Linked DNA regions of Homo sapiens: region 2 is linked to region 1. The links come from fine-mapping of genetic effects on plasma protein levels. Region 1 holds a variant in brackets. A gene starts in the other region. All regions are shown on their reverse strands.

Region 1 (2,818 bases):
TCGTTGCCTCCTGGTCACTGGGCATTTGCTTTTATTTCTCTTTGCTTAGTGTTACCCCCTGATCTTTTTATTGTCGTTGTTTGCTTTTGTTTATTGAGACAGTCTCACTCTGTCACCCAGGCTGGAGTGTAATGGCACAATCTCGGCTCACTGCAACCTCTGCCTCCTCGGTTCAAGCAGTTCTCATTCCTCAACCTCATGAGTAGCTGGGATTACAGGCGCCCACCACCACGCCTGGCTAATTTTTGTATTTTTAGTAGAGATAGGCTTTCACCATGTTGGCCAGGCTGGTCTCAAACTCCTGACCTCAAGTGATCTGCCCGCCTTGGCCTCCCACAGTGCTGGGATTACAGGTGCAAGCCACCGTGCCCGGCATACCTTGATCTTTTAAAATGAAGTCTGAAACATTGCTACCCTTGTCCTGAGCAATAAGACCCTTAGTGTATTTTAGCTCTGGCCACCCCCCAGCCTGTGTGCTGTTTTCCCTGCTGACTTAGTTCTATCTCAGGCATCTTGACACCCCCACAAGCTAAGCATTATTAATATTGTTTTCCGTGTTGAGTGTTTCTGTAGCTTTGCCCCCGCCCTGCTTTTCCTCCTTTGTTCCCCGTCTGTCTTCTGTCTCAGGCCCGCCGTCTGGGGTCCCCTTCCTTGTCCTTTGCGTGGTTCTTCTGTCTTGTTATTGCTGGTAAACCCCAGCTTTACCTGTGCTGGCCTCCATGGCATCTAGCGACGTCCGGGGACCTCTGCTTATGATGCACAGATGAAGATGTGGAGACTCACGAGGAGGGCGGTCATCTTGGCCCGTGAGTGTCTGGAGCACCACGTGGCCAGCGTTCCTTAGCCAGTGAGTGACAGCAACGTCCGCTCGGCCTGGGTTCAGCCTGGAAAACCCCAGGCATGTCGGGGTCTGGTGGCTCCGCGGTGTCGAGTTTGAAATCGCGCAAACCTGCGGTGTGGCGCCAGCTCTGACGGTGCTGCCTGGCGGGGGAGTGTCTGCTTCCTCCCTTCTGCTTGGGAACCAGGACAAAGGATGAGGCTCCGAGCCGTTGTCGCCCAACAGGAGCATGACGTGAGCCATGTGGATAATTTTAAAATTTCTAGGCTGGGC[G/T]CGGTGGCTCACGCCTGTAATCCCAGCACTTTGGGAGGCCAAGGCGGGTGGATCACGAGGTCAGGAGGTCGAGACCATCCTGGCCAACATGATGAAACCCCATCTGTACTAAAAACACAAAAATTAGCTGGGCGTGGTGGCGGGTGCCTGTAATCCCAGCTACTCGGGAGGCTGAGGCAGGAGAATTGCTTGAACCTGGGAGTTGGAAGTTGCAGTGAGCCGACATTGCACCACTGCACTCCAGCCTGGCAACACAGCGAGACTCTGTCTCAAAAAAAAAAAAAAAAAAAAAAATTCTAGTAGCCACATTAAAAAAGTAAAAAAGAAAAGGTGAAATTAATGTAATAATAGATTTTACTGAAGCCCAGCATGTCCACACCTCATCATTTTAGGGTGTTATTGGTGGGAGCATCACTCACAGGACATTTGACATTTTTTGAGCTTTGTCTGCGGGATCCCGTGTGTAGGTCCCGTGCGTGGCCATCTCGGCCTGGACCTGCTGGGCTTCCCATGGCCATGGCTGTTGTACCAGATGGTGCAGGTCCGGGATGAGGTCGCCAGGCCCTCAGTGAGCTGGATGTGCAGTGTCCGGATGGTGCACGTCTGGGATGAGGTCGCCAGGCCCTGCTGTGAGCTGGATGTGTGGTGTCTGGATGGTGCAGGTCAGGGGTGAGGTCTCCAGGCCCTCGGTGAGCTGGAGGTATGGAGTCCGGATGATGCAGGTCCGGGGTGAGGTCGCCAGGCCCTGCTGTGAGCTGGATGTGTGGTGTCTGGATGGTGCAGGTCAGGGGTGAGGTCTCCAGGCCCTCGGTGAGCTGGAGGTATGGAGTCCGGATGATGCAGGTCCGGGGTGAGGTCGCCAGGCCCTGCTGTGAGCTGGATGTGTGGTGTCTGGATGGTGCAGGTCTGGGGTGAGGTCACCAGGCCCTGCGGTGAGCTGGGTGTGCGGTGTCTGGATGGTGCAGGTCTGGAGTGAGGTCGCCAGACGGTGCCAGACCGTGCGGTGAGCTGGATATGCGGTGTCCGGATGGTGCAGGTCTGGGGTGAGGTTGCCAGGCCCTGCTGTGAGTTGGATGTGGGGTGTCCGGATGCTGCAGGTCCGGTGTGAGGTCACCAGGCCCTGCTGTGAGCTGGATGTGTGGTGTCTGGATGGTGCAGGTCTGGGGTGAGGTCGCCAGGCCCTGCTGTGAGCTGGATGTGTGGTGTCTGGATGGTGCAGGTCTGGAGTGAGGTCGCCAGGCCCTCGGTGAGCTGGATGTGCAGTGTCCAGATGGTGCAGGTCCGGGGTGAGGTCGCCAGACCCTGCGGTGAGCTGGATGTGCGGTGTCTGGATGGTGCAGGTCTGGAGTGAGGTCGCCAGGCCCTCGGTGAGCTGGATGTATGGAGTCCGGATGGTGCCGGTCCGGGGTGAGGTCGCCAGACCCTGCTGTGAGCTGGATATGCGGTGTCCGGATGGTGCAGGTCAGGGGTGAGGTCTCCAGGCCCTCGGTGAGCTGGAGGTATGGAGTCCGGATGATGCAGGTCCGGGGTGAGGTCGCCAGGCCCTGCTGTGAGCTGGATGTGCGGCGTCTGGATGGTGCAGGTCTGGGGTGTGGTCGCCAGGCCCTCGGTGAGCTGGAGGTATGGAGTCCGGATGATGCAGGTCCGGGGTGAGGTCGCCAGGCCCTGCTGTGAGCTGGATGTGCGGCGTCTGGATGGTGCAGGTCT
Region 2 (2,818 bases), not on the chromosome of region 1:
AACATTCTACACCACTAAGTAGAGAAGAGAATGGGCTGTGGATGCTTCTGGGTCTGGTCCTTCCCCACAAAATACATTTTGCCACAGAAAGAGGATTGTGTAGAAGGTTGTTCCATGGTGATTTTTTCCACATAGCTGATTTGGTTTATTGAGAGCTTCCACTTCACATGTTCATAAAGTAAACAGATTCTAGGAGTTACTTGGAGACATGGCAGCAAATGGTTAACCATTTTTTAATGGTAAAATCTGACCTGAGTTTCTGAGTTCTCAACTCTCTTATAACAGACATTTAGAAGTATCCAATTCTTGAACTCAAAATTAACTATAATTTTAAAATGTGCCTATTGTGTAGACATTGATCTGTGATTATACATTTTGTCACATTGATCAATAAAGCTAAATATAAAAATGAAAATGAACAGAAACTATTGAATTATGCACCACAAGGTGCAATCTATATGCCAATATGAGCATGCAGAAATGTCTGCGTGCTATGTATATGCTACTTGTGATTTATTAATTTATACTTCTTTATTTATATAAACTCAATATTTAAGATTATTGTATTTTAGAATCAGAGGAAATCTGAAATTGTTAGTCCACCCCACTTCATTATTGTGCTATGGAAACAAGCCTGGAATGATTGACATCTTCCATAGATGAACAGAACCAAATAATGATAATTTAGCTTGGAGATCAATATTATCTTTAATTTTATACAACCAGAAAATACAAGTAAATACAGCACATCTTTGAATATAGAAATACCAATGAGTTATGGTGTGTTTGGCCATTGAGTTCTGAAAGTCACTGTGGCCTTGTATTTACAAACATTAAAGATAAAATTATTATCCAAAACAGTAATGTCCAATAGATTATTAATAAACATTTTAGATAGCTGTAAAAAACATTGTGTTCTCTAGAGTTCATAAAAATTATGAGCTTAATTTCAATCCAACAGAAATAATTCTGAAAACTCTAATGTTGTGATGCTAATAATTGGGCTAAGAATTTTCAAACTATTGACTGGCAAAAACATGGATAAATTGTAATATATGAACTTCAAAGAATAAATGCACAATTACAAAACTTGATATAGCAATTTATTTTTAAAAGCCATTTGAGGAATCACCAAATAATTTCAAAATCATGACTAGAAAACCAGCAATGAAATTTGAGACTACTGGTATGACAAATCCTGTTTCAGGCCTTGTTGATCTAGAGTTACTTGCACAACCAGAATTTGCCAAAACAGGAAATAGGTGTTTCATATATACGGCTCTAACCTTCTCTCTCTGCACCTTCCTTCTGTCAATAGATGAAACAAATACTTCATCCTGCTCTGGAAACCACTGGTAAGTGATAACTCCTTTATTTCAAGGTGAACATTATTTATTTCAAGGTGAACAACACATTTATACCTTATCAATGATAAAGTGATATATTCGTATATTTTATCTACAATTTTCCAAAGTTTATTGATAACTTTTAATGAGAGTAATTATCTTAATATATTCATTTTAAGCTGAGAAGCTAATACATAGACAGCTTTATTATTCCAAAAGCACTTTTATCCAGTTTGAAATTTAAATAAATTTTTACCTTTCATTCTAAAGTAATATAACTAATTCCCATGTCTATGACTTGTGGAAACAATTGTACTAGAACTATTTTTAATAGAAAAATGAAAAACTATGAATATATGTGTGTGCATACTTTCACATCAGTAACTTTTACTAATATTAAAACATACAGCTATATGGGATGCCATAGCAAAAGTTTTAAATTGGTCAAAACAAAATTATAGCACTGATCTCAAGATTAAAAAGTATTTTATTAAAGACCATCAACATAAAATGCAATTTACCTCATGAAATGCACTCAGATCAAAAACAAAAAAAAAAGGCTTTTAGAAGTTTTTCAGTCAAAAGTCAGTCTACTCAGTCATGTTTATGTAGGTAATTTAAATATAATATCTATCGTGCATATTTCATCTAAGGAAGCAATTTCCACATACGGCTTTATCTTCCGTAGCATATTAGAAGTGATTCTGAAGAGTCAGATAGTAGGAGACCACAGAACTACCTAATGACAACATGAAAGGGGTTATTTACCACTAGACAGAAGATTTTAAAGTAAAATGCTTTTCTTCCCTGTGGCTAAATGCTATCCAGGAAACTCTGGGAGTATTTGCAATAGCCATAGAAGATCCGGTGTTGCCTCTTCTGCTAGTTAAAACCAAATCTAGAATGTCTGCCTGTATGACTAAGACCTCTGAAAGTGGATCAAAAGAAATTAAATTGATGACAAGTTTCAAGCCTGGGAGTTACCCTACATTGATAAGTTATGAGGTAAATTGGGGCTTCTGATTTGTAACAGGCAGGGATGAATTGGGAGGAAGAGTGTCAGAATTCTCAAGTAATGTAAATCTGATAATTGCTATGAATTTCAGTTACGTTATTTATTGAATTCAAGTAAAAGGGAGGGAATTCATCCTTGAAAAAAAAGTGCTTCTCAAGAAATGCAAGACAGCTATTCTTATTTGGATATCTTTACGAATTTCTTACTTGATGAAGTCTAGCAGTTTTGCAAACTTTGCATATTGGCATAGGCTGCTTTCTGTATCACAGATACATAATAAGATGAAAGAAAGTGATCAGAATAAAGATTAACTATTAAATTTTAAGTAAGAAAATATTGCATCAAATACTTTTCTGTGCTGTGACTAGTTTATAAATGTGTCTATACCTATAGTGCACACATTATACTCACATGTGTTAATGCTTTTGACATCTTTTCTAATCCACGTAATCCTTTA

Direction of the effects. Alleles are on the strand shown, and positions count from the first base shown. The strength of an association depends on the size of the effect and on how common the allele is.
With allele G in place of T in region 1, the plasma level of the protein whose gene starts at base 1,298 in region 2 is lower (weak association).

Evidence for each region. PIP is the chance, under the fine-mapping model, that this variant and not a neighbour inherited with it causes the effect. The UK Biobank Pharma Proteomics Project read protein levels with antibody pairs (Olink). The fine-mapping took linkage between variants from a reference panel, not from the people measured, so its PIPs are less certain.
Region 2: CRISP3 starts here. The variant in region 1 is fine-mapped to the plasma level of the CRISP3 protein (UK Biobank, PIP above 0.99).

What each region holds. Positions count from the first base shown.
Region 1 is chr5:1,284,153-1,286,970 of GRCh38, reverse strand. The region is part of intron 2 of TERT (telomerase reverse transcriptase); the gene reads left to right. Among named protein-coding and RNA genes, the nearest start is that of TERT, 9.5 kb to the left of the region's middle. RefSeq lists an enhancer at 1-497. The variant G/T (reference allele first, on the strand shown) is at 1,112.
Region 2 is chr6:49,742,868-49,745,685 of GRCh38, reverse strand. It overlaps CRISP3 (cysteine rich secretory protein 3), which reads left to right and starts at 1,298. Exons shown (of 8, transcript NM_006061.4): 1 at 1,298-1,355. The coding sequence starts at 1,319.